4 linked regions of the Homo sapiens genome follow. The protein of the gene in region 1 interacts with the protein of each later gene in a pairwise test. Each region holds a gene or a part of one and is shown in the gene's direction. Other genes may lie near its edges.

Region 1 (7,026 bases):
AGGCTGGTCTCGAACTCCTGACCTCAGGTGATCCGCCCGCCTCGCCCTCCCAAAGAGCTGGGATTACAGGCATGAGCCACCACCACACCCAGCCTGATTTACATTTTTACAAGCACCCTGGCTACCACGTGGAACGTGGTCTGGGCAAGAGAGAGGGAGGGAGGCCCACGTGGGGGCTGTTGCTTTCATCCGGCGACATAGGAGGGTGGCTTGAACCCAGGCGGTCGCAGTGGGGATGGAGGGATGTTGAATATCTTGGGATGTGGAATTCTGAGACTGAGCCAGCAGAATCTGGCAACGAGGAACAGGAGGGAGAGGAAGAAGCACGGCTGGCTTCCGTGTATTTGTCCTGAACAACTGGGTGTTTTGCCACGTCTTTCTCTGAGTTGTGGGAGAGGGAAAGAGAAACAGGCCGGGTGTAGGCAGGGGAGCATCTGACATTTTGCTTTAGCCACGATGAGTTGGAGATGCCGGGGAGATGTCCCAGCAGGGAGGCCAGGGAGGACTCTGGAGCTCAGAGGAGAGGTCAGGGCTGGAGGTTAAAATGAAGGCATCGTCAGCAAACAGGTGTATTTAAAGCCATGGGACTAGATGAGATCATCCAAAAAGCTGGCATAGTTGGAGGAGCTGGAGGGCCCAGGACAAAAACCCTGGGCGCTGATCCTCACTAGTCAGATTCACGACAGCTGCCACTTGTTTGATGCTAACTACCAATCAGGTGCTGAGTGAAACCATGTACACACCTTTCCTGGAATGCCCACCACAAGGGACTCTTGGCACCATTTTGCAAATGAGGAAACTGAGGTGCAGGGAAATAGCAAGTGACAATCCCTGGGGTGGTTCCCCTGACCCCAAGGAGACCTTGGATGACTCTCACCACCATCATTCATTCCTTTGATGTACATTGACTAAGAGCACCTGCTAAGTGCCACATTCGAGTTGGGCAGTGGAGATTCAGCAATGGATGGGACACACACGTCATCCCTGCCCTCGGGAGCACAAGGACAGAAAGGTGCAGACAAGCAAAGTGAGGGCTGGGCATGGTGGCTCACGCCTGTAATCCCAGCACTTTGGGAGGCCGAGGTGGGTGGATTACCTGAGTTCGAGACCAGCTTGGCCAACATGGCTCAACCCTGTCTCTACTGAAAATACAAAAAATTAGCCAGGCGTGGTGGTGGGCTTCTGTAATTCCAGCAACTTGGGAGGCTAAGGCAGGAGAATTGCTTGAACGTGGGAGGCGGAGGTTGCAGTGAGCCGAGATCGCGCCACTGCACTCCAGCCTGAACCACAGAGCGAGACTCTGTCTAAAAAAAAAAAAAGGAAAGAAAGAAGCAGCAAATTGGGCTGGCCGTGGTGGCTCATGCCTGTAATCCCAGCACTTTGGGAGGCCGAGGCGGGTGGATCACTCGAGCCCAGGAGTACAAAGCTGCAGTGAGCTGTGATCTACAGAACACCACTGCAGATCCAGCCTGGGTGACAGAGCGAGACCCTGTCTCAAAAAAACAAACAAACAAAAGAAGCAAACCCTTCAAAACCCCATATAATTACAAATTATGAAGGAAAAGAATACGGGTACCTACTTTAGATGGAGGAGGGTCAGGAAGGACTTTCTAATGAGATAAAATCCAAGCGGAGGCATGAAGATGGGAAAAGGAATGTTCAGGGCAGAGGAAAGGCTGTGATAACACCCCTGAGGTGAGAACCGTCTTGAGTATTCTCAGAAAATAAAATTTCCCGTTCACTGGGGGGCAGAAGGTGCTGGGAGATAAGGTTGGAAAGTGACTACAGCCAGATCACACAGGGGCTCCAGTGCCAAGTGGAGGAGCCCAGGCTTTATTCTTAGGACAATGGGGAGCCATGGGTGATGTCTGAGCAAGGGAGTGACTCTCTGTTTCAGGAATATGTATCAAACACCTATCCTGTGCCAGGTGCTGATCAACGCACTGGAGATACTATATCTGAATAGAACAAAAATCCCCATCTTGACATCCTAGAGCTGCACTGTCTAATATGGTAGCCATCAGCCACATATAGCAAATTACATTGAAATTAATGAAATGGAAAATCCACAAGCCACATTTCAAGTACTCAGCAGCCACCTGTAGCTTGTGGTTCCCCCAGCCACCTCTGGACAGTGCAGATCGAGATCATGGCATCGTAGCATTTAGTGGACAGCATTGCTCTGCAAGGAGGAGAAATAACACAATGAGTAAATATTTAACAATAAATATATAGCAGGTCGGATGATTGTGATAGGTTCTCTGGTGGAACAGAAAGCAGGGGAGGGAGATAGGAATTGCCTACTAACAGGTATTTGTATTTTAATTGGGCAACTAAGGAAGGCTTCCCTGAGAGGCGACATTTAAAGGAAGTGAGGGAGTGAGCTATGCAGATACTTGGAGGACAGACTTGCTGGCAGAGGGAACAGCAGTGCAAAGGCCCTGAGGTGGGAAGATCACTATTGTGTTCAAGGCAAGACAGGGAAGCCAGCGTTTGGCTGGAGCAGAGGGAGAGAAGGGGAGAGTGGGAGGAGAAGATGTCTGTGAGATGATGGGGCAGTGCTTGCAAGGCCTGGTGTGCCACGTTGAGAACTTTGGCTTTGATTCTGAGTGAGATGGGAGTCATAGGAGGGGCTGAGCAGAGGAGGCACAGGACCAACTTACATTGTTAAAATATCTCTGGTTGCTTTGTGGAGGATGGACTGTGGGGGACCAGAGACAGAGCAGGGAGCCCAGTGAGGAGGCTACTGCTCTAGTTCAGGTAGGAAGTGAAAAGGCAGCTCAAACCAAGATGGTAGCCGTGGGAAAGGTGAGATGTGGCCAGATTCTGGATATGCTTCAGAGAGGCAAAAGGAATTCTGGACAGCTTGGATGTAGGGCATGAAATAAAGAGAGTGAAGAATAGCCCCCAAGATTATTCTGAAAGGATGGAATTGCCATTTACCCAGCTGGGGAAGACTGTGGGAGGAGCAGGCCAGCGATTCATGACTTCCCAGCCCTCTCTGAAGCCTCAACTGCAGCCCAAGGGCTCCAGGTGAGACCCAGCCCTCTTCCTTCCCAGGAATCTTCAGGTCTTCCTGGGGAAGCATAACCTTCGGCAAAGGGAGAGTTCCCAGGAGCAGAGTTCTGTTGTCCGGGCTGTGATCCACCCTGACTATGATGCCGCCAGCCATGACCAGGACATCATGCTGTTGCGCCTGGCACGCCCAGCCAAACTCTCTGAACTCATCCAGCCCCTTCCCCTGGAGAGGGACTGCTCAGCCAACACCACCAGCTGCCACATCCTGGGCTGGGGCAAGACAGCAGATGGTCAGTAGTGGGAGGCTGGTGGGGAGCAGGCTACTGGCTACTTGGGGAAGTGTGCCAAAGGATGGGGAGTGGGAAAATTGGTGAGGGGCCATGGGAAGATGGGCTAATGGTGAGGACCAATGGGACAGGGTTTCAATGGGAGAAAGGTCAAGGGGGAGGGAGAGTGAATTTGGGAGCTGGGCCAGTGAGTGAACAGCCAATGGAAAATGTAGACCAATGGGTGAATAGCATGGGAGAGATGGAACATAAGATGAAGGTTCAATAAAGAGGGAAGGTCAGTGGGGAGATGCTAATCAGGAAGGATGTCAAAGGTCAAAGGGGACTGATCAGGATTCATTGAACAGCAGGAAGGAATAATGGAGAAGGAACTGATGGAAGAAGAGAAACCAATAAAGCACAAAAGCCAACTGAAGGATGTGAATTGAGACAGTGAATGGGGGTATAGCTGATGGAAGAGGGACTAAGGGGAAAGGATCAATGGTCCAGAGGAGTCACTAGAGGAAAAAACAGGTCCAATAGATCAGCAGGATCCATGAAGGTGGGCCTGTGTGTGAAGGGCCAATAAGAAAGGTGAACCATTGGATGAAGGGCCAGTGGGAAGGCAGAGACAATGGGGGAGGATGCGGCAAGTTAGAAAAGGACCAATGAGGGAGGTGGACCATTGGATGAAGGGCTAATAGGAAGGGAGAGCCAGTGGGGGATGGTGAGGCCAGTTAGAAAAGGACCAAGGAGGGAAGCAGACCAATAGGAAGAGAGAGCCAATGAGGGAGGGCAGGGCCAGTTAGGAAAGGACCAATGAGGAAGGTAGACCATTGGAGGAAGGGCCAATAGAAAGGGAGGATCCATGAGGGAGGGTGGGGACAGTTAGAAAAGGACCAATGATGGAGGTGGACCATTGGATGAAGAACCAATAGAAAGGAAGAACCAATGGGAGAGGGCATGGCCAGTTAGGAAAAGACCAATGGTCACAGAGTGACCAATCAAGATGAATCAATGGGCAGGAAGTGTCCAATGAAGAATGGACTACTGATCAGGAGGGGTACAGTAGAGGAGGGCGTAACAGAGGAAGAGTCCTCCAGGTCAACTGAAACTACTGAAGAAGGTGGGACCAGTGGAAGAGAGAAAAGTGGAGGAGGGACCTAAGAGAAAAGGAAAACCAATAGGAAATGAGGACTCCTGGAGAAGAGACTATTAATGAGGAAGACAGCCAATGGGGGGGAAGAATGATAGAAAGAGGGACCAATTAGGAGGCAGGGACGATGGTAATGAGATGTAAGAATGAGAGACAAACAGGAAGAGGGGTGCCAATAGAAAAGAGGGACCAATAGAGGATGGAGGACTTATAGGGGTTGGGGGGTGACTGGGGAGGATGAGGGGAGTGCAAGGCCTGGGCTGAGTCTGGCCCATCTCTCCCCTAACAGGTGATTTCCCTGACACCATCCAGTGTGCATACATCCACCTGGTGTCCCGTGAGGAGTGTGAGCATGCCTACCCTGGCCAGATCACCCAGAACATGTTGTGTGCTGGGGATGAGAAGTACGGGAAGGATTCCTGCCAGGTGAGGTGACCCGGATCTGCCACTTACACAGCCAGGGACAGGACGAAGTCACAAAAACATGGCCAGACACAGGAAGAGAGAGACACAGGCCAAAAGAGAGCTTTACAGAGACAGATAGAGACAGGCTGAGGGAGAACCCAAGCCTTGAAAAGAAGAGACTTAGTTCAACACACAGAGACACAGTCAGGGATATGCAGAGATATAAAGACACAGCCAGCAGAGACAGGAAGTGCAGAGACAAGGATGGAGGCCGCGGGATCAAGAACCAGAGAGGCCAGGAGCAGCGGCTCATGCCTGTAATCCCGGCACTTTGGGAGGCCGAAGCAGGAGGATCACCTAGGGTCAGGAGTTCGAGACCAGCCTGATCAACATGGTGAAACCCTATCTCTACTAAAAATACAAAAATTAGGATGGGCACAGTGGCTCATGCCTGTAATCCCAGCACCTTGGGAGGCCGAAGCAGGAGGATCACCTGGGGTCAGGAGTTCGAGACCAGCCTGATCAACATGGTGAAACCCTATCTCTACTAAAAATACAAAAATTAGGATGGGCACAGTGGCTCATGCCTGTAATCCCAGCACCTTGGGAGGCCGAAGCAGGAGGATCACCTGGGGTCAGGAGTTCGAGACCAGCCTGATCAACATGGTGAAACCCTATCTCTACTAAAAATACAAAAATTAGGATGGGCACAGTGGCTCATGCCTGTAATCCCAGCACCTTGGGAGGCCGAGGTGGGTGAATAACCAGGTCAAGAGATTGAGACCAGCCTGGCCGATATGGGGAAACCTCATCTCTACTAAAAATACAAAAATTAGCTGGGCGTGGTGGCAGGCGCCTGTAGTCCCAGCTACTCAGGAGGCTGTGGCAGGAGAATCACTTGAACCTGGAGGCGGAGGTTGTTGCAGTGAGTCGAGATCATGCTACTGCACTCCAGCCTGGCAACAGAGCAAGATTCCGTCTCAAAAAAAAACCAAAAAACAAAAATTACGCAAGCATGGTGGGACACACCTGTAGTCCCAGCTACTCGGGAGGCTGAGGCTGGAGAATTGCTTAAACCCAGGAGGCAGAGGCTGCAGTGAGCTGAGATCACGCCACTGCACTCCAGCCTGGGGACAGAGCCAGACTCTGTCTAAAAACAAAAAGAACCAAAGAGAAGTAGTAAGGAAGCAGATGGTGTGAGGGGACTGTCCTTCCTCAAACAGAGCCCCCACGAGTCCTGCTCAGAAACGACCAGGCTCTGGAGGAGGGAGACACTAGCTGGGGAAAGGGGACTCCCTCCCGAATACTTTAACTTGGGTTTCCTCCATTGTCATCCATCCAGGCTCTCCTCTTTATGCCAGAATGACTAATGCACTGAGGGATGTGCAGAGACCAACCAAGGGGGAGACACAGGCAGAAACGGAGACACAGGCAGAAACAGGGACAGAGACAGGGAAAGCGATACATAGCAAGTTGGACGCAAAGAAAGGGCAGGTGGGCGAGACTGTCCTCAAGACACGAGGTGGAGAGGTGTCCCTGGACAGAATAGTGCCAGGCATATCTCTCCCTGGGCCCTCCCTACCTCTCCCACCTGGGTCTTATCGTCTCCTCCTCCCCCTCCTCCCCCTCCCCATCCTCCTCCCCCTCTCCATCCTCCTCCCCCTCCCCATCCTCCTCCCCCTCCTCCTCCCCCTCCTCCTCCCCCCTCCTCTCCCTCCTCCTCCTCGTCTTCCCCCTCCTCCTCCTCCTTCTCCTCTTCCTTCTCCTCTTCCTCCTCCTCGTTCTCCTCTTCCTCCTCCTCCTCTTCCTCCTCCCCCTTTTCCTCCTCCTCCTTTTCCTCCTCTTCTCCTCCTCTTCCTTCTCCTCCTCCTCTTCCTCCTCCTCCTCTTCCTCCTCCTCCTCTTCCTCCTCCTCTTCTTCCTCCTTCTTCTCCTCTTCCTCCTCCTCTTCCTCCTCCTCCTTCTCCTCTTCCTCCTCCTCTTCCTCCTCCTCCTCCTTCTCCTCTTCCTCCTCCTCTTCCTCCTCCTCCTCTTCCTCCTCCTCTTCCTCCTCTCCTTCTCCTCTTCCTCCTCCTTCTCCTCTTCCTCCTCCTCTCTCTCCATCGGTCTCTACACCTCTGCCTCTCTCCACACCTCTCAGTCTCCATTCTTAAATTGTTTCTCTTTCTTGCTCTCTATGTTC
Region 2 (7,026 bases), on another chromosome or scaffold:
ATCCTAAGCTATCGTGAATTCTGGCATGGCACAGTCCCTTTTTTTTTTTTTTTTTTTTTTTGAGACAGTATCCCACTCTGTCACCCAGGCTGGAGTGTAGTGGCATGATCATGGCTCACTGCAGTCTCGGCCTCCCAGGCTTAGGTGAGCCTCCCAAGTAGCTGGGACTATAGGCGTGCCACCATGCCCCATTAATTTTTTCTTTTAATCCCCGGAGATGGTCAGGAAACGGTTATTTTATTTGTTTATTTATTTTTTATTTTGCATTTTTTGTAGAGATGGGGCTTTGCCATGTTGCCCAGGCTGGTCTGGAACTCCCAGGCTCAAGCAATCCACCTGCCTTGGCCTCCCAAAGTGCTGGGATTACAGGTGTGAGCCACCGTGCCTGGCTGGTTGATGGTCACTTTTTCTCAAGGTTTTGGCACATCCACCTCGCCTGTCAGTCTCTCCTGTTCCAGGCAGACCTTGCTGCTCTTGGTCAAAGATTTTTCTCTAATCACACAGGACCAAAAGCCAACACTGAGTGCTGCTCTCTGAGCAATGCCCTGCTCAGTGACAATTGGCTAATTAAAGTGTAAACTGATCTGAAGGCCAGGCTCTCCTGGGATGCTTGCAAATCAGATCAAGTTTACTGCAGGCTCCAGGCTGAAAGACTATCCCCAGAATGGTCCAGTGATCATGATCCATAGCTTTGTATCCAACTCCAGGAGGAGGTTAATGAGCATCATTTACATCATTTTCATTGAATGTGCTTAACACGGAAGGGATTGCCAACAAGAAGCTCCTTGTATGGAGTCAGTTCTCTAGGCCCAGCAGTGTTATTTGTGATTGCCTAACCAGGCGGAATGAGACCTAAAGACAGTGAAATGTGTAACCTGTGGTAGATAACATTTAAAGATGCCCTGTGTTGTCTGGATAGGCCAAGTTATACTAAGGTTATAAACATCCCCCAGATCTCAAGGGCTGAACACAATGACAATTGATTTCTTTTTCACATAAAGTCAGCTAAGGGTTCAGGTGGTTCTCTAGAGTACCTGTCCTCCATGTGTCATCTTGATTGTCCAGACTGATGGAGGTTTCACCTACCTGAGACTGTAGCACCTGGAACACAATCTCTTCCATGTAGCTTGGGAAGAGAGGACTGGGCAAGGTTGAACACAGGTACTTGAAAGGCCTTGGAAATGACACACCTCGTGTCTGCTCCTGTCTCATTGGCTAGACCTAGTTATGTGACTGCCATTAACTTCAAGGAGGCATCCCCCACATCTGTGGAAGTGAGAGAGCCCAGGACGAGTGTCAACAAGGACCTCCAAAGTCACTGTTGTACTCTTGCTCCTACAGTTACTTTGACGAGCCAGTGGAGTTAAGGAGCAGTTCTTTCTCTAGCTGGGATGACAGTTCAGATTCCTATTGGAAAAAAGAGACCAGCAAAGATACTGAAACAGTTCTGAAAACCACAGGCTATTCAGACAGGTATGAATGCAAAACTGTGGGGTTGTAGTAGTGAATCCATGCATTTCTGGGAAAAAATTGCTGATAACATGATGACATGAAAACCCTTGTAAGGGGCTGGGCACGGCGGCTCATTCCCATAATCCCAGCACTTTAAGAGGCCGAGGTCAAAGGATCACTTGAGCCCAGGAGTACAAGGCTGCAGTGAGCTATGATCACGCCAGTGTACTCTAGCCTGGTCAACAGAGTAAGTCCCCCTCAAAAAGGAAAACCTTTTGAAACCTTTTGTAAGACTAGTAAATGATTTTGTTCTACTATTTCAGGAATATTGTTTTGATTTTGTTTTTTTGTTTTGTTTTGTTTTATTTTTGAGACAGAGTCTCACTCTGTTGCCCAGGCTGGAGTGCAGTGGTGCAATCTCAGCTTACTGCAGCCTCCGTCTCCCAGGTTCAAGCGATTCTCCTGCCTCAGCCTCCCGAGTAGCTGAGACTACCGGTGCACACCATCATGCCAGGCTAATTTTTGTACTTTTAGTAGAGACGGTTGCCTCACCAGCCAGGCTGGTCTCAAACTCCTGACCTCAAATGATCCGCCTGCCTCGGCCTCCCAAACTGCTGGGATTACAGGTGTGAGCCACCGTGCCCAGCCTGTTTTGATTTTAAATTACTGATTCTAAATAGGAAGTGCACATCAGAATCCTCTGTGGACCTTGAAAGAAATGTGTGTGTGGAGTCCTCTTCCCTGAAGATTCTGATCCATGGGTCAGGGGTGGCCTAGGTCAGGAAGGTTTCACCTTTTTCCCCAATTTTTTTTTTTTTTTTTTTTTTTTTAAGATGGAGTCTTGCTCTGTCACCCAGGCTGGAGTGCAGTGGTGCAATCTCAGCTCACTGCAAGCTCCGCCTCCTGGGTTCACACCATTCTCCTGCCTCAGCCTCCCGAGTAGCTGGGACTACAGGCGCCCGCCACCACGCCTGGCTAATTCTTTTGTATTTTTAATAGAGACGGGGTTTCACCATGTTAGCAAGGATGGTCTCGATCTCCTGACCTCATGATCCACCCGTCTTGGCCTCCCACAGTGCTGGGATTACAGGCGTGAGCCACCGCACCCGGCCTTTTTTCCCCCAATTTTAAGGTATTATTTACATATAGTAAAATTCATCTTTTTAAACTTACAGTTCTGACAAGCACATACATTCATGTAATTACCACCAAAACCAAGAAACAGAACAGTTCCCATCACCCCCAAATTTTCCCCATGCCCTTTGTAGTCCCCCCTCCCCTGCCCCTGGCCCCTGGTCACCCCAGGTCTGTTTTCTGGCCTTACAATTTTGCCTTTCCCAGATATCATATAAATGGAGTCATGTAGCAATTGGCCTTCCTACTCTGGTTTAACTTGTCTTAGTACACTTGGGGAAGACTCATTCATTCTTGTATTCATTCCTCTTACTTGCCAAGTTTATCCATTCACCTGCTGAAGGGCTGTCTCCAGTTTTTGGTGATTATGAATGAATTTATTTTCCAACCAGAGGACTTCTGAGAGTGCAAGGGGGTACTACTAATATGTTGGGACAACAGGTGTGACTTGAAATTGTCCCAGGTAACTGGGACATTTTATAACCTATACAATGTAGAGAGAGCAGTGTCCTATGGACATTCCAAACAATGTATTCAGTGTTTACCCAGTTGATCTGAAATGTGATATAACATATTTGAACTGAAATGTGAAATAACAGACCCCGTTTTAAACAGAAATTCCTTCAAATTTTGTATCGTTTGGGTATTTATTCTTTTTTTTTTAATTAGAATTTTCAGGCTTTTAAAAACAGCCTAAAATCCTTTTACAAAATTTACTGCTGTTGGCATTTTAAAAAATAAAATGAGTATGAAACACATTTGCTTCACCTCAAATTAGTTTAACCTAATTTGGCTGTTTTTAATTGCAGACCTACTGCTCGCCGCAAGCCAGATTATGAGCCAGTTGAAAATACAGATGAGGCCCAGAAGAAGTTTGGCAATGTCAAGGCCATTTCATCAGATATGTATTTTGGAAGACAATCCCAGGCTGATGTAAGGGTCCAGAGAGTTTCTTTGGGTGCCCCATAATGCAGGAAGGAAGTGTGGGTGTGGGCATTGTCGGGGAGGAGATCCTGAGTGAGCTGGGCTCAGGCTGCCAGATGCCCTCTGGCCTGAAAGTGCTGGAGTCAGGACTTGAACCCAGGTCTGTATAACTGATCATGTGCTTGCTACCTCAGCAAGAGGAATGTTTACAAGACAAGGACTTATCTCACAGTTGTCTTATTCCTCTCTTGGTGTTTTGAATAGCCATTATCCAGTATCTTTTGAATATATTTCAATTGTTGGTGCAGCTGTAATTTACTTAATAACTTTTAAACATAGTGAAATGAAGCACATAGATATGTTTCTTTTTTTTTTTTTGAGACGGAGCCTCCTTCTGTCACCCAGGCTGGAGTGCAGTGGCATGATTTCAGCTTACTGCAACCTCCGCCTCCCAAGTTTAAGCGATTTTCCTGCCTCAGCCTCCCAAGTAGCTGGGAATACGGCCGTGCACCACTACACCTGGCTAATTTTTGTATTTTTAGTAGAGATGAGGTTTCACCATATTGGCTAGGCTGGTCTTGAACTCCTGACCTCAGGTGATCTGGCTGCCTCGGCCTCCCAAAGTGCTGGTATTACAGGCGTGAGCCACCACGCCCAGCCAGATATGTTTCTGAGGAGTGCATATATTTATTTTCAGGTTGTTGGCTTTTCTCAGAAATGTTAATGAACTTGGCCAGGCACTGTGGCTCACACCTATAATCCTAGCACTTTGGGAGGCTGAGGCAGGTGGATCACTTGAGGCCAGGAGTTCGAGACCAGCCTGGCCAACATGATGAAACTCCGTCTCTACAAAAAATACAAAAATTAGCTCGGTATGGTGGTACGCGCTTCTAGTCCAGCTACTTGGGAGGCTGAGGCAGAGAATCGCTCGAACCCAGAAGCAGAGTGAGACTCTGTCTCAAAAAAAAAAAAAAGAAAGAAATGTTAATGAACTCATCATAGTGAAGTCTTGCTAAGCTGTAAGACTCAAGTGGAAGTGGGGAGGTTTACGTCTTTCCTCTCATCCTGAATTGCTAGTGTGCCTCTGACTATTTGGATGATGGTTTCCTAAAATGTGCTGAATGTATTTTGCAGAAATTTAAACTTCTGCAAGTGTAACATTTCGCCATCATTTCGAAAGTAGAATTGCCCCTTGCTGTTCCCACAGTCCATAAAATCTGCCTTGCTTCAAAGTTGACATTCAAGTTCAGTTTTAAAATAGTGTCATGGGGCTTGGAAAAGAGACTCTTAGAGTGGCCTTTGCTGACAGCTGGCTAGAAGCAGCACCAGGAGAGAGATGCCGCTCTCCCTCCCTCACTCCGACGGCCTCCGCACTGGCCATCGTGGCTGAGGTGTTGTATGTTGATCAGTCTGCCTGTGACCTGCCTCCCATGCAGAACATGAGCTTTGTGCTGTCCCGCAGGACCTGGCCTTGGCAGTGGCATTCAGTAACTGTTGGAAAGAAAGAGCCTGGGGGTCAAACACTTTCAAATGACAGCTCTTCAGTGATTCTTTTTGCAAAACTGCCCACAATCTTTGGAGCCTAACATTTCCTTTTCCTTGTCTTCTCTAGTATGAGACCAGGGCCCGCCTAGAGAGGCTGTCGGCAAGTTCCTCCATAAGCTCGGCTGATCTGTTCGAGGAGCCGAGGAAGCAGCCAGCAGGTAGGGGGCACTGAACAAGAGCTGGTCTCTGTCATGTCTACGGTATGAACACATTTCATCTGGATAGGACTGTTTCCTTTTCCAAGATATTTTAGCAACCATTATTCGATGCTCTGATCTCTGCTATAAGTCAGGTAGAGCAGAAGTTACTATTCCAGGCTTCACACGTAAGGAGACCAAGTCATGAAATTAAAGCAACATCCCATCATTGCCTGGCAAGTCATCCTTCTGAACACTGTCATAGAGGAGTGTTTTCTAGCTGAGTGCGGCTGTGCTATGAAATACCATGTGCTATCTTAGCCTTAGAGGTGGACAGCGCCGGGCTCCCGTGTGATCCTCACCACCCTCTAGCTGTGAGCCCTTGAGGATGTCATGGTGTCTTTAGCCTCAGTCTCCTCCTCTGTAACGGGGGTGGATAAAACCACCTCACAAGGTTGTCATGCGGCTTAAATGAGCAATGTGAAGTGCCACCAAGTGTCTGGCACACAGCAGGCCCCAGGGGTGGGCAGAGGCAGATAGAAACATGTGGCTCTAACAGCATCTGTCTTCTGGGGAAGACAGAACACAGCTTTGGGAGTGAGCAGGTGGAGAGGAATTGCCTGTCTCCCATATCCCTCTTCAGGGTTCAGACCCCAGCGAGGAGGTGTCTGGTCCTCCCAGGGCTGGGATGGCCTAGGATGGGGCGGCCTGTGAGCCCAGTGGTGGGCCTCAGAGCGCCGGCCCCTCTGCTTCGACTTCCCCTCCCCCTGACTGAGGGATGCCTTGTGAGAGTACCCTACAAAGGCCTCTGCCAGGCCACAGTGGGGAGGAGGGGCCCTGTGGTTAACGTGAAAGGGGCAGCGTCCTCTGAGGTCATTTCAGGAAGCCATTTATCAGCAGGAGAGCCAAGGGGAGGGATGACTCTCAGGAGCCAGGCATTCCAAGCCTGGCACCCTCAGCATCCCTAGGCCTAGAGGAGCTGGCTGTGGCTCTAAGTGACCAACCTAGGCTATCACTTGGCCTTACAGCCACAGAGAACAGCTGTTTTCAGAGTCCAAAGAGAAACAGCTCGAGAGAGGTCTGAGTGTCGGACATTCTGGGTTGTGGTTTGGGGATGTTATAGAGACACACTGTGGCCCTCGGGGTGCAGTGGGCACTGCCAAGTTGCTGTGCTGCAGTGGAGGGAGAGTCCTAGCCAGGTGGCAGCAAGTGAGACAAGGGTTGTGTTGGCAGAGCAGCTGGCAGAGAGCCAGGCAGCCCAAGGAGCCAGAGGCCAGGGCCAGAGTGGACAAGCCCCGGCACATCCGCTGCCAGTGAGAGTGTGAGGGTGCCTGGGGGTGCGCAGCCAGGGCCACGGCTCCCCTGAGCCACTCTTTGGTCAGGAGCACACCCTGTGCCTCACCCCAGACTTGAGCAGAGGGGCCTCGTTTCCCTTGGGCAGTCAGTTACTTGCTGACTGGGCATTTCCTGGCAGTGAGTCTTGGTGGGGGCAGGTGAGGCTCATTGGCTTGTTCCATCTCCAAACTTTCAGTGTCCTGGCCTGTTGTCAGGGCAACTTCCTTTTGTGACCACCCCTGGCAGAGAGGCACTCCGGCCACCTTTGGAGACCTCCAGCAGCCCCACAGGTCAGTGCTGGGTCGCCTTGTAGGGGCCCTGGCACAGCCAGCAGCCGGTCCAGAGACCTGCATTGTTCAGTCCCCTGACTCCCTGCAATGGATGCCTTTGTAATTTAAATCAATAGAAGTTTTACTCTGAAGCACTGTTTGTTTTTTTAAAAAAATATTTGGAGATCAAATGAGAGCAGCCTTTCCAGTTACTGAACAAAAATAGTGGC
Region 3 (7,083 bases), on another chromosome or scaffold:
CCAGGCTTAAGCAATCCCCCCACCTCAGCCTCCCAAGTAGCTGAGACTACAGGTGCACACCACTACGCCTGGCTAATATTTTAAATTTCTTGTAGAGATGGGGTTTCACAGTGTTTCCCAGGCTGGTCTCAAACTCCTAGGCTCAAGCAGTCTGCCCACTTCAGCCTCCCAGACTGATGGGATTACAGGTATGAGCAAGAGCCACCACCCTCTGGCCTTCTTAGATTTTTAGATCTTAGATTTTTTTAGCTTGCTTTTTTCATCCTTTTCCTATTCTGTTTAATATATCACTGATAATCTCTTAAAAATCCTAGAGTACTCTGGAGTAATCTACAAATCCCTGGAATTCACTGGATGTTTACACTGACCTTCTGGAAAAGTTATTAAACAAATATAAGATAATAATGGAGAAAATGGTCATTGAAACATCAGTGAAGGCAGAGTGAAGCCCAGAGCACTGGCAGTGGAAATCATTATGGTAATGGTGCATCTTGAAAAGCTAACCAGTCACTCTCCACTGCCTGTGGTAAAGCAAATACGCCTTACAAATCATTTCAGAGCCTGCCTTGGGCCTTCCCTAGCCCATATCTTTAGTTCCAGCTTCTACTCTCTTGGCTCTTTCACCATTGTCCAGCCCCTTAACTTCAACAGGACTCTATTTATATTGAACAGATTTGCTGTTCCTAGAAGGAGCTATGCTGTTTTGCTTCAGGCACTTTCATAAGCTGTATTCTCCTTCGGGAATATCCATCACCCAACTCTCTGTGGAATTCCTATTTATCTTCTCTATTTAGACACGATCTTCTCTAGAATGCTTTGCCTGACCTTCTGCCCTTCTGCCATATCTGGCTATAGGCTCCTGCTCCGTATTGGCCAAATGTTTCAAGACAGTTGCAATCACTCATTTATGTGTCTGCATATGCTATTGGACTGTACGCTTCTCGAGTGCAGAAATTGAGTCTAGTTTATATACTAAATGGTTTACATGGGGGACTAGCCTCAAGAAGGATGCATGTTTGATGACTGAAAGAACAAAGGACTACATAAATGGATGAGCAGGTTGACTTCTCATTTCATTCCAAAGTGGTTAGCCCATTTAGACAGCAATCTACTGCAGGAAAGAAGGAAGGTTCACCTATCATTTATTGAGCTTATTATGTGGCTGGTGCTGTGCATCAGGGAACAAATCTTTGATGTAAAGACCTTTTAGTTTAATAGAAGAGAACAACATTTACAGTAAGCTGAGACAAATGACAGGGTAAAGGTAAATGGAGGTGTTAGAGGAGTTCGCAAGAACACCTTATCTGTGCCTATGGGGGGCTGGGTAGGGAGTTGAGGGATTGGCAGGGAGAAAGTGATATTGAAATGGAGATCTAAAAACTAAACAGAAGCTATCCAGGAAAAGAGAGTATGTAAGGGTATTCCTGGTTGGAGGAACAACATATACAAAAGATTGGATACAACAAGAGAAAAGCCCTCCTGGGTCACAGAGTGAACTTAAAAAGAGCCAGGAGCTGGTAAACCACATGGACAACTTTAGACCTTATCCTGGGGAATAATGAAGAGCTATAGGAAGATCCTAAGTTTTAAAGTAAGATGATGAAATTTACACTTTAGAGAGCTCTCAGCCAAGCACAAGGCTACAAAGTCCTTGTTCTTTTTAAACCAGCTTTATGAAAGGTACCATTTTTGACATTTGCTTAGATCACAAATTGGAAAGTATTTTTCATGTCCAGTAGGAGGAGCCAAAGTCTCCAGGTTCTTTCTAACCATAGCAGGGCGATTCTTGGCCCTAGGTTGTCCTGGGAGCTGTCAACTTCAGCACCTCTCATTTATCTTCCAGTGGCTCAACATGGAGAAATGACAGGAAAAACTCTACTTGGAATGCGAAAGGTCATTGTGAGAAAGAAACTAATACTTTCCAAATGAATAGCATAATGGCATGCCATATTGATCTTTACTCTAATTTTGTTTTAAATTGTAATGGATGCCTCTCACACTCATATTCTTAAGCCATGTAGCAATACAGGTACCAGTGAGTCATGCCTGACACTCATCACTAATCTATCTAAGCCTATTTCTACTCTACAATAAATAAATCAGAGCAGACTCAAGCTGAACTTGATTTTCAGATAGATGAATATGTTTTATTTCCAATGGTAAATATATATATGTATTAAAAATAATCAAAGGGCCCAGCAATTACCCATTTTAATGTAACAACAGCTGATGTTACTGCCTTGAATGATTGCATTCATTTGTTCCTTTCTGGAATAAAAAATGAAGGAGAATAGACAAACAATTCCTGTTGGTGAATTTGCACAAAACAGTATATTCCAACAGAATTTCCCGTTAACTGCCATTTATTTCTTCTATCATTATTGATAATTTGCTTTTAAATTGAGAATACCTCTTTTACAACCCATCTCATCTCCCTGCATGGCTAGACAATTACATTTAAATTCGGCGGTTTTCCCATTGTGAACAGTTTCTGGGGGAAATGATTATGATGTTACCAACCCAGATTTATGGTTTCATTTTGCTATCACTGAAGGATGAGACTAGTATAAAGAAAAAAAAATTGCTTACATACAAATATATTATTATCAAAGAGAATCCTAAGGAAACATATGGTAAAAATCAACCCAAATTGCAAAATCGCTGGGACCAATGATAAAGATATCTTTCTGGATTTTGCAAACTTACTTTTTCAAATGATGATTAAATATTGCGTGCTTTAAAAAGTAATATAGTTATAGGCAGAAGTTCCCTTTCTTTTATTCTGAGGTTGAAAGAAACCGCAGCCCGATAGGATTGCAAGAGGAACCCTTAAGGAATCTGCTCCTTGATGGGCGCTAGGAAATACACGTACATCTAGTACAAAGGAATGCACATCACATGGCCCCCTGTTTTGGAAAGCTTACAGCATTTCTTATAAGAGGATCCATGGTATAAGTGCAAACACAGTCACATCACAGGATGGGAAAATGAACAGGCGCCTCAGATCAAGTGCTCAAGGCTGGAATCTGGCCTTGTCCAATGCCACCTGCCCTTCAGAAGGCAGGGTGGTGCCACATAAAATGAGGTAGACTGCCTGGGGAGTCCTGGTTCCTTGCCAGCTATGTGACCTTGAACAAATTACAACTCACTGAACCTCAGACTGACTTTATTGTACAACAAAACCCCCTGGAATATTTGTGGAAAAAAGAGGAAGGGAGAAAGGAAGGAAGGGAGGAAAGGAGGAAGGAAGAAAGGGAGGGAGGAAGGAAGGGAGGGAGGGAAAGGAAAAGGTAGGGGAAGAGCAGAGTTTCTCACTCCAGTCCAGAGTGGGACCCAGGAAGGGAGAAATATTGCTTTAATCTCTCTAAGCATCTGTGAAATGGATAAACCTCCAGTATCTACTTCCAGTTGTTGAAAAGACTCCATGTAAAGTGCTTAAAACAGCATCTGGTGGAAAGTAAATGCTTATTAAGTGCTAGTGTGTATTAAGGCGTCATGGGGCTTCTGGCTGTAAGACATCTGCTAGGAGGACAATCCCTAGACCCCTTCAGCGTCCATTGCGGGAGTAGGTGGCCAGGAAGGGGGCAGGACAGGAGAGGCCCAGCTGTGCGGGGTGGGGGCGTCCCAGGCCAGCCGCACCCACCCCAGCCCTGCATCCCATCCAGCCTGGAGAACTTTTTGAATCTTGGATAGGGCTCGATCTCTGCCTGGCCGGAAGATTTGAAGACTTGCCAGAAAACTTCCTCAGAGAAGAAATGGACTGGGGCAAGAAGCTGCCTCCACTTGGCGTCTCTAGTGGGGGATTTGTCTACTTTGATTGGGGTTGGGAGGAGGGCGCTGGTGCTCAATGAGTGAGCCCACCTGGGGACTACCAGGACGAGGACGGGCGCAGGTGAAAGTCCTGGGCTCATTGCCCCAGCATCCAACTTTCACCCTCTGTCCCCTTTAGGCCAGGAGACCAGGGTACCGGGTCGCGTGTCCGCCGCCGCCGCCCGCTGGAATCCAGGGCTGCACGCGTGACCGCGGCGGCGGCGGCGCTGGCGAGGGGAAGGGGGAGGGGGCGCTCCCTCGCGCACCAGATTATTTTTGGCTCCGCAGCCGGGGCTGCTCGCTGCTTGTCGCGCGCTCACACACACACAGACACACACGCACACACACACATGCACACATTTTCTCGCGCTCTCTCCGGCTCTCCTTTGTTTATTTTCTAATCTATATTTTTACTGGAAGATTTCCTCTTTATTCTCTCCCGCCCTCCTACAAGCGCTCTTGCTGGCCGTCTGGGTGCACACACCGCTCCCTCGATCACCCCAGCCCCCTTCCTGGTCTCCCGAGCGCGGGGTTTGAAGGTCACCTCCTTTCCAGTCCCCGTGCGAGCCGCGCTGCCGCCGCCTCCTCCAGCCAGAGTCGGTGGGACTGGCTGCGCTGCCCTGAAGTGGTTCTCCAAGCAGCGCGGAGGGTGGCGGACGGCGGACGGAGCCCAGGGGCCGCGTCGGGTGGGGAAACCCGAACTCGCGGAGGGGAATCCCTCCCCCTCCGCCCCAGCCCCCCAGCAGCACCCGCGGTGGGGCGGGGGCGCTCTGCCAGCCCCGGGAACAGCAGAGGCGGCGGCACTGGCTGGACCCACGCGCGCGCCTCCGGGGCTGAAGAAGGAAGGAGTGAGCCGAGCCGAGCACCCCACATCTGGAGGGGACAGCCAGCCGTGGGCCCCGCCCCGGCGTCCGGAGCAGGAGAACTCCGAGCTTCTTGCCCAGGCAGAGAGAGCAGGAGCGGACCGCGCGCCCGGGATTGAGAGTCCTTGCGCTCCAGACCCCCACCCAGTGGCCGCCAGGGTCCCCGCCTGTCCGGACCCTCGCCGCGCCCAGGCAGGCGCGCCAGGGCGGGGCTGACCTGCCCGCGAAGTTGCGGACAGTGCGTGAGAAACCAGCACCCCCTTCCGCCGCCTCCAGCTTATGGTGAGTGTGGCTGGGGGTGCAGAGAGCGCACGGGAATTCGGGGGTCTGGGGCCGAGAACGTGACCGCAGCCGGGCTCGCCGGGAGTTCTAGGTAAGTCCAGGCGGAGTCATTGCCTCTGCACCCACCCTGACCTGGTGGGTCAGGTCCAGAAGGTCTCATGGAGGGAAGCGCTAGGTCCCCGAGAACTGGCCTCCTCCTAGCGCCAGTCTGGGCGCTCTGGACGGGAACTTTTTCAGGGTGTGTGGAAAGATCTCGAGGCGTGTCCCCCCCTACCCCCAGGAGGCCGAGACCCTGAGCCCCCTTGTGCGTCGCTTCCAGAAGCACGTCCTTCCTTGCCCCAGAGCGCCCCTCCGAAGCATCCAGGCTACCTCGTCCGTCCTCCTGGGAGCGAGTCCTAGGTGCCAGGAGCAGCGGGAGCCTGCCTGCGCACTTTGATTAGTCTCCCTGGCCGGCTGCAAGCGTGCACTCAGCGCGCCCCCGGACCGCTGCCTCCGCCCGCAGGGTGTGCAGGAGGAGGCATCTTAGTGACCCGGGAGGGTGTTTAGGTGCCCCGAACCCCTTGTGGGAGGAGGGGAAGAGAAGGCTCACTTATGTGGAGAAAGCGCCGCTGTGTTTACTGGCACTGGAATCGATGCCCCGCGGTGCCACCTCGACCCCAGGGGAGGGGGCCAGCCGGGAAACCTGCGAATGGGAAACTCCTACTGTGCCCCTGGTTCCTGGGAGCCTTAGAGAACCTTCACCCCAGAGAAGGAAACACAGGGGTAGCAGATCTTAGCCCTGTGTTGTTGTGCAGGCCAGGGGGGGGCTTGTCAGCTCCAATCAACCAATTGTCCAGCTATGGAAGCGAGGGCGGGGCTAGTGGGGCGCCGCTCCCATCTCCCCACCGCCCAGGAGGCCACTTGGCTGTGAGCTCCTGGAGCCTCCCTGGCGCCAGCTGCGGGGACCAGGTGTCACGCGGAGCCCGGAAGCTGTCCACTCAGCAAGGGAGGGGAAGACCCCGATCTAACCTTGTCCTGGAGCCCCCAGCTCCATTCCTTGCTGCCAGGGAATGGTCAGGGGGCTGGGAGAGCTCATCGCTCCTGTGTGGGCCAGAGCTGGGGTGCACCTGCTGGCACTGGAACATCTGGGGTGCGGCTACTGAAGAGCTTGGAAATCCTGGTCAGGCAGTCCGGGCAATTGGCACCCCAAAGGCGGATCTTTTCAGTTGAACTTGAAAAGAAGTGGGGGAGTGTGGTGAAATAGCTTTGTTGAGTTGAAACATCATGTCTCCTAACTTGGGTTTTCCTTTATTAGAATAATGATTGTTTATTTTTATTTTTAAACTCCGTTGTGCAGAGAGGCCTGGCCTTGACAGCCCAAGTTTAGGACATGCCCCAGCCTGCCATCCCTTCCCTGCCCCCTGTCCTAGTTCATCTCCCCTCCATTTATCATTTTATCTTTGTTACAAAAGAGAGAAAAAAAAGATGAGAGGGCCTGGATTCTTTCAATTTTTAAGTGACCACAGAGGCCCCGGCTGGAGCTACTGGCAGATTTATTTTTAGCTAAGATCTTTTATGTTCAGAAGCAAAGGACCTGGGGCCTGTGAAGGGTAAAGGTGGTGCTGGCAGTGGCTGTGCTGGTAAAAAGTGGGGCTGACTCAAAACCTGTGTCCTCTTTGAGCTCGTCAGGGAGGCCCTCCGTTTGGAAGAATCCCCTGGGCTTTCCTTAAGTTAGCTTATGGTTGCCTCGGGTTAGGAAGAAAAGTCATCATTCCTCGCGGTAGTGGAAGTGACACCTTAGGGGTCCAGAGAGTGGAGCTTTATGGCTCAGAAGAGCACAGGGCTTCTGGATCCGTTATCTGCCAGCTGTGTGACCTTGGGCAAGTTGCTTTACCTCTCTGAGCTTCGGGTTGTCACCTGTAAAATCAGAGTTTCAGTCGTAGTTCTGTCCTCAGAGGGTTTGGGGGTAAATTACTTAAAGCACTAAACATTTAGAACAGTTTGGCACATGGTAAGTGCCTGAATTCTATGAGTTTTGTTTCTTTATTCTTTCAAGTAGATTCCTCTAATTTTTGAGCCTTGTAGCACCGAGTGGTACAGGAAAGGCAGGTGGCTTGCCTTATACACACACGTTTTCTTTTAAGTAAGG
Region 4 (7,026 bases), on another chromosome or scaffold:
GGCCCTTTAAATATGTGCAAACCATTTTAACTGTATCTTAAATTATGCTTGTTTGAGCAAAAACTTTGAGATTTCAAACCCGTTTTAAAAACTTTTTTAATGTAATTGTGCATTCCCATGCAGTTTTAAGTAATAATAGAGAGATTCCTTCTACTCTATCCATTTCCCCCAATGGTAACATCCTGTATTATTATGGTATAATATTACAACCAGGAAATTGATATTGATGCAATCTACAGCATTTAGTCAGATTTCACCCATTTTATATGTACTTCTATTTTTTTTATTTTACTAAGTGTGTATTTAGTTTTATGCAGCTTTATCATATGTGTAGATTTCAGAGAGTACCTCCACAGTCAAGATACGGAACAATTCCATCCCAAGGATCCTCAGTACTTCTTTATTGCAATCATGGACACCTAATCTATAACAACTGCCTAATCCATAATCCCCTCACCCAAATCCATAACAACCATGAATCTGTTCTCCATTATCATTTTGCCATTTTAATACTGTTGTATAAATGGAATCACATAGTATGTAACCTGTTGAGATTGGCTTCTTGCACTCAGCATGTCTCTGGATCTTCATTCAGGCTGTTGCATGTATCCATAGTTTGTTCCTTTTTATTGCTGAGTTGTATTCCATTGTATGGATATACCACAGTTTGTATAACCATTCACCTGTTGGGGACATCTAGGTTGTTTCCAACTTTTGGCTGGGATAAAGCTGCTATAAAAATTCACTTACAGGTTTTTATGTAAACATAGATTTTTATTTCTCTGTTCTAAATGCCCAGGAGTCCAATTGCTGGGCCATATGGTGGCTGCATGTTCATATGCTTTATATGAAGCTGCCATACTGTTTTCCAGATGTTCCTAGCCGCAGTGTCTGAGTAATCCAGTTTCTGTGCATTTCTGCCAGCACTTTGTATTGTTGCTGTTTTTTACTGTAGCCATTTTGATAGGTATGTAGTGATATCACACCTATATATGTACCTCATTAATTTACCATTCCCTAATGGGTGAAGCTATTGAACATCTGATATTAAACCAAAGAGTTTGGTAAATGTGCCTTTGTGTCTTTTGTCCATTTTTAAGTGTTTTTTTTAAATGTTGAGTATTGAAGTTCTTTATATATTCTAGATACATGTACTTTGTCAAGTATGTGATTGGTAAATATTTTCTCCCACTCTGTAGCTTGTCTTTTTGTCCTCCTCACAGGACCTTTCTCAGTGCAATACTCCAAACATATTTTTTATTAAAATGTAAGTTGATTTTTGATTCATTGAATGTATCTTACGCATACTGAGAGCTAGAAATTTCCTTAAGAATAAATGTAATTTATAGATGCATAATACTTTTTGCTATAAAGGTGGTTGCTTGTATACTAATAAATAATAAAAGTGCTTGCTTAGGTAGTAAAGATACTAATTATGTATTTTTTCAAGTAAGAAATGAACTAAAATTTGAAATGAGGAAATGGGTTGCAGACCATCTACTTCTACCAGTTTTGAGGGGATGGGACAGTGGAATATGAAAGCAGCTTACCAAGATGTGGTGGCTTTGCACTATGTCACTTTAGCTAAGTTGGGACTATGTTTCTTGGAATTGCCTTTGCAAGATGATCTGGGTTAGGGCTGACCATAAGAAAAATTTCTGCAAGATTTGGAAGGTGAAAGTGAAGTGGCTAAGATCACATTCAGAATGTTGGCATAGGTTTTGTTGCTGCCAGGCCTCTTGCAGTTTGTCACAGAAATGTTGGTGAACATGCTGTTGGTTTGCAGCAGCACCCAGGCCCTCAGCTCCTCCAGTGCTCTCCAGATCTCGTCTTTCAGCTACTTGGAATCATGGTGCAGGTGTGTATGCAGCTCTGCAGGGAAGAGTGCCAGTCTTTTTGCAAGCCTCTTGCATTGTTAAAGTTGGAGCCTTAAAGGCAGTGGAAAACAGACATGTATTTTAGCTCATCCTTGTGGGTTCCATTTTGCCTTTGCTTCCCCCTACTTCAAGTCCATTCACCCTCTCTTCCAGAATGGCCCTGCTGCCCTGCTGGCTTTCAACTTGGATAATAGACACAGAAGCATCACACTTACATAGGCTATTTAACCAGCCCCAGCAATAGTAAAAGGTCAGATCCCCATAGTACATCCCTTCTTCTGAATCACTCATGGTGGCTCTGGTTTTCTAGTCTAACCCTAACTGATACAAATGACCATCTCTTTGTGTTCCTTGAAGTGAATTTAGAATTACAATGAATTTCTGTTTCCAGTCAAATCTCAGATTCAGTCTTTTCATAAGATCATGCCCAAGGGCATGCAAGAATATTTTTGGACCATAGTGGTACAGAATCAAAACATCTGTGACTCTGCAGCAATAACATTTTTTTTTTGCTTCTTTTTCCTTCCCTGGCCATGACCTGTTTGTAAGCCTGAAATCAAGAGAAATGCATTAAGCTACTCTGTAGAGGGTGAATTGACACAGAACCAAACTCTATGATGTCCATAACCCCTCCCTTGAAAAATGGTCCAGAATGGTTTAAAATAAACTTAGCTTTTTAATTTTATCCCAACCCTTCTCTTGGGAAGAAGATACTGCTGAATTGTTCGCAGTGCCATTCCATTCAGTAAGCAGGTGGAAGTCTGCTTCAACAAGCAAGAACCAATGATTTTTTAATGTTAAAGATGGGGAAACTAAGCAAATGAAAGGACTTTAAAATCCTGATTCTTTCTCTGTGTGTTTAGCCTATTAGATTATATTTGCTATAATGCTTTATTTTATTAAGAGCTTCTGATGGTAATATAAACCATAAGAGTGAAAGTGGGTGGTTTAAAATGTCAGAGCCAAAAAATAGACTATCTTAATATGTGCAGCTGTAGGAATTTACAGCATTTTAATGTTTGATCTTGAAGGTTTTTTGCAGTAGTTTGCATCTTTTAGTTACAAATAGTATGCCAACCATGAAAATAAGCACTAGCTAACCTCCATGCCCACAACCTTAAAGAAACGGTGATATGTTTCTTTTGTTTCTATTCCTTTTCATTCAACTTCTGTGGGATTTCATTTTGACACAGCCTGTTGCCACAAGGCTGATAAGTTTGTTTTCTAAGTCTATCATAGGACACAAGTGAAGATTCTCTAGGATGTTTGACTAGATTGTCTAGGATGTTCAGTGACAGAAATAACCAAGGGAAAATGTGATTGGAGGCAAGAAAAATTTTATAAAGAAAAATGAAAAACTGCCTTTGAAAATTTTATGCCACCCTAAGGTTATCTTGGAAGCTCCAAGAGGTGGAGGTTGTGATTATAATCTAGTAGGATATACTTTATAGACTACAGTCTGGTAGTGTAGGAGGGACAGAAAGTGAGAGGAATATATTTTTGGACTCATGAGGGTTTTTATAGGTGAGTCCCTGAATCAAGGCTTGGAAATCACCTTCCGAAGCAGTCTATTATTACCAACCAATGTCTTTTCTGTCTTTCTTTGGAGCTACATTCATATTTTTCCTAACTTTGAGTATGTCATCATCTCACTTAAAGAGAGGGGTAAGGAGGTCGGGCACGGTGGCTCATGCCCTGTAATTCCAGCACTTTGGGAGACTGAGGCGGGCGGATCACTAAGTCAAGAGATCAAACCCATCCTGGCCAACATGGTGAAACCCCATCTCTACTAAAAATACAAAAATTAGCTGGGCATGGTGGTGTGCACCTGTAGTCCCAGCTGCTCGGGAGGCTGAGGCAGGAGAATTGCTCGAACCTGGGAGGCAGAGGTTTCAGTGAGCCGAGATTGCACCACCGCACTCCAGCCTGGCAACAGAGCGAGACTCTGTTAAAAAAAATAAAAAGAGAGAGAGGGGGGTAAGGAATGCCTGATCATGCCCACACAATGGCAGTGTTTCTTTCCCAAATAATAAGATACTGTTTCTTTTCTATGAAGTCCTGTTTGATCTGACCCCTGGCTACCTCTCTGATCCCTAGTCTACCAATCTCCACCTCATTCTCTGCACCAGCATTCCAGAGCCCTTGTTCTTTGCACAGGCCAAACCCACTGCTACCAAAGGCCTTGCATGTATTGGTGGTTCCTCCTGAATGCTTTTCCCCAGATCTGTGCAGGGCTTATGTGCTCACCACCTTTGGTTTCTGCCTAAATGTCACTTCATCCCGGAGGCCTTCCCTGGTGGCCAGGTGATCAAAGTAGCAAACACTCCTCTGTGTTTTTTTACCCTTATTTCCTTACCCTGCTTTGTTGAGTTTTACCTCCCCTCACTACAGTGTAAACTCCATGAGGTTTATCTCTAGCACCTACAACTAAGCCTGGCTTGCAAAGTAGGGACTCAAGATTTATCATTGAAAGAAGGAATATTATTTGTCAATTAAAAATGAATTAATTTTTTAAAGAATGAATAAATCCTTTTTGTGACTGCTCAGATTTTTCAGGTAAATACTAAGGTAAGGCTACATGATTATAATGTAGAGAAAAAGTCTGCTTGGTTTACTTTTTCACTAATTTACCTTTGTTCTTTCTTTCTCAAAGAGAAAAGTGGAGGCAGACTAGGAATTTCCTCAGATGTATACAGAGGATACCAATGGGTTCTGTTTACTGAGAGATTCTGAAAGGGATGACTTTGAATTTCTATTGGAACTTGCTGGAACTGTAACTCTGTGTAGAGAATGAAGATCTGTAGCGCTTTTGGATCTTACTCTTCTTAGGTGGCAGGTTGCAGCACAAATGGTTGGTGGATGCTTGCTGCAAAGTTCAAGGTGAGAAACAGCAGCTGTACCTTCAAAACCCAGAATTATAGGGGGTTCTCACTACACTCCAATCTCAGGTTCCTAAGATTCATCCATGCCTATGCTTTCTATAAGGAATGGCCTTGTTGGATCAAATGGAGTACAAGTACCTGAAAATATGTTATCAGAGAAACTAACATGACAGTGATTTTTTTCTGGTCTTCGTGCTGGATTCTTGGGAGGAAACTTCTGATCCCTTGGAATTTCCCAAGTGAGAGGAGTTTCTTTATTATTCATGATGGACTCCTGGGATCACACCTAAGTTTATGCTAAGGAGGAGTTGACTCATGGTGGGCTCCTAGATGGTTATAGGGTGAGGGCTGGCTGTGGTGTAAAGACCAATTATATGATTAGAGGGTTGGGGCTGTGAGGCATGTGATATCACTCCTATATCTCAACCTCCTAGGAGGGAAGAGGGGCTGAAAATTGAATTGTTGTGTGGTCAGTGATTTCAATCAATTGTGCCTACATACTGGGACCCCCAATAAAAACTCTGGACACTGAAGTTTGCTTGAACTTCCCTGGTAGGTAATCATACCTTGATGTGCTAGGAGGGTGAAGCATCCTGAAGAAATAGAACATTTATGCTCAGGGCCCTCCTGGACCTTGTCCCGTAGGTTTCTTCCTTTGATTGGTCCTGACTTGTATCCTTTATAAGAAAACTATAGCCATAAGTATAGGGGTTACTCGATTTCTCTGAGTTGTTCTAATGAATGATCGAACCTGAGGGAGTTGTGGGAGGCCCTGATTATGTAGCCAGTTGGTCAGAAGTACTGGTGGCCTGAGGAACTTGTGGCTGATGTCTGAAGTGTGAGGAGTTTTGTGGACGACTTTGCCCTCAACTGGGAGTTTTTGTTAATTCTGGGAAGTTGATGTCAGAACTGCATTACAATCAGGCACTCCACCAAACACCAAACACACATTTAAAAAAAAATGCTAAAAATTGACAGCTCAGTTAAAACTAAAATATTTGGCCTTGGTCTGTCATAATTTTTATTATTTGCTGGCTCTCTTTTTGAGGATTTTCTTCCGGGACTTGCTACCTTCCAGATATATTTACTGATCTTCCTGCCTTCAGTTTTCTTACCCTTTCTTTAGTACAGTTATTACTCTAATAACTGTACTATTACTCTAGTACTAATGTAACAGTGACAATAACCTCCCTTCCCATGGGGCAGCTTTCCTGTGGGGCAGCTTCCTCATAGCCAGATAAGGATGTGATGCCTTGAACTCAAATCAAAGCCATGAATTTTGCTTCAGCTGCAGAGTATCAATCTCCCCTCTGGACTGTTGTTTGCATTGGTGCCTGGGAGCTACATCATTTTGTACTTCAGATACATTAAGCAATAATGATTTGCTGATTTATTCCTGGTACTGAAGGGAATGCAGAAGAAGAGCAACCAAAATGATTGAGGGCCAAAGGGATTTTTGCCTTAGAGGAGAAATGAGAAGAACCAGATGTTGTTATTTATTGGTTGAATGATCTAAGAAGACTATGGAAACCTCTTATAAGCATTTGAGATCTGTAATGATGGCAAGAGGTTGGGAAAAAGAAAGATGAACAGTAATAGAGGAATACAGGAGAATGTGCTGTGTGCTTAGCATTGGGCTGTGGAAACCCATGCTGAAAGTGTTGGAGAACCCAACACTGGAGACACCAGAAACAGATAATAAAGGGTTACTTTTAATTTTTGGTTTTCCCTGGTTTGTATTTCTTTGGAAAAGAATGTACTCTATTCTTTGTGTTACTGCTGAGAAATCTGGGCTTTTCTGGAAAGCTGGGCAATACTAGCAGCCTTCCCTTAAGCTTTGAAACCTGTCTCTCATTGTTCTGAGTATCACCTGACTTTGAATCACCTGGGTTGCTTGGGGGCCGATCTCTGGGCCCTAGTTTAGATCTGCTGCCTTGGAATATCTTGGGATGGGATCGGAGAATCAACAATTGTAGCTACCACACCAGATGATTAAGACAGTTGAGAACCACTGGGACTCATGGGGGCCCATGTTTAATGAGGTTGAGATGCTAAAATCTCCCTGGCATAATGTAGAGAAAGGAACGCAAAGGCTTATTGAGATAGGAATGCTGGCATGCGTTTATCACATGCCACCTGCACACACACACACACACACTCATGTCTCCACTGTATTCCCAGAGAGGGCCAGATGACTTTCCCTTTTTTGAGGCATTGAGAATTACATTGGTGAAGGAGCACCTGCAACTTCGAGAAGCTCTTTGGTG

The links.
Region 2: the proteins of KLK6 (region 1) and ARFGAP3 interact in binary tests that used the Homo sapiens proteins (3 or more experiments, as listed by UniProt).
Region 3: the proteins of KLK6 (region 1) and RBFOX1 interact in binary tests that used the Homo sapiens proteins (3 or more experiments, as listed by UniProt).
Region 4: the proteins of KLK6 (region 1) and TMTC1 interact in binary tests that used the Homo sapiens proteins (3 or more experiments, as listed by UniProt).

What each region holds. Positions count from the first base shown.
Region 1 is NC_000019.10:50,959,584-50,966,609, reverse strand, and holds part of KLK6 (kallikrein-6 isoform A preproprotein), read left to right. Parts: intron 1-2,099; exon of another isoform or gene 2,100-2,182; intron 2,183-2,943; exon of another isoform or gene 2,944-3,054; intron 3,055-3,060; coding exon 3,061-3,308; intron 3,309-4,729; coding exon 4,730-4,866; intron 4,867-7,026. UniProt on the Homo sapiens protein: Serine protease which exhibits a preference for Arg over Lys in the substrate P1 position and for Ser or Pro in the P2 position.
Region 2 is NC_000022.11:42,805,260-42,812,285, reverse strand, and holds part of ARFGAP3 (ADP-ribosylation factor GTPase-activating protein 3), read left to right. Parts: intron 1-1,341; coding exon 1,342-1,473; intron 1,474-3,395; coding exon 3,396-3,519; intron 3,520-5,122; coding exon 5,123-5,213; intron 5,214-7,026.
Region 3 is NC_000016.10:6,014,947-6,022,029, forward strand, and holds the start of RBFOX1 (RNA binding protein fox-1 homolog 1), read left to right. Parts: upstream 1-4,077; 5' UTR 4,078-4,952; coding exon of another isoform or gene 4,953-4,955; 5' UTR 4,956-5,046; intron 5,047-7,083. UniProt on the Homo sapiens protein: RNA-binding protein that regulates alternative splicing events by binding to 5'-UGCAUGU-3' elements. Regulates alternative splicing of tissue-specific exons and of differentially spliced exons during erythropoiesis.
Region 4 is NC_000012.12:29,773,917-29,780,942, reverse strand, and holds part of TMTC1 (protein O-mannosyl-transferase TMTC1), read left to right. Parts: intron 1-7,026. UniProt on the Homo sapiens protein: Transfers mannosyl residues to the hydroxyl group of serine or threonine residues.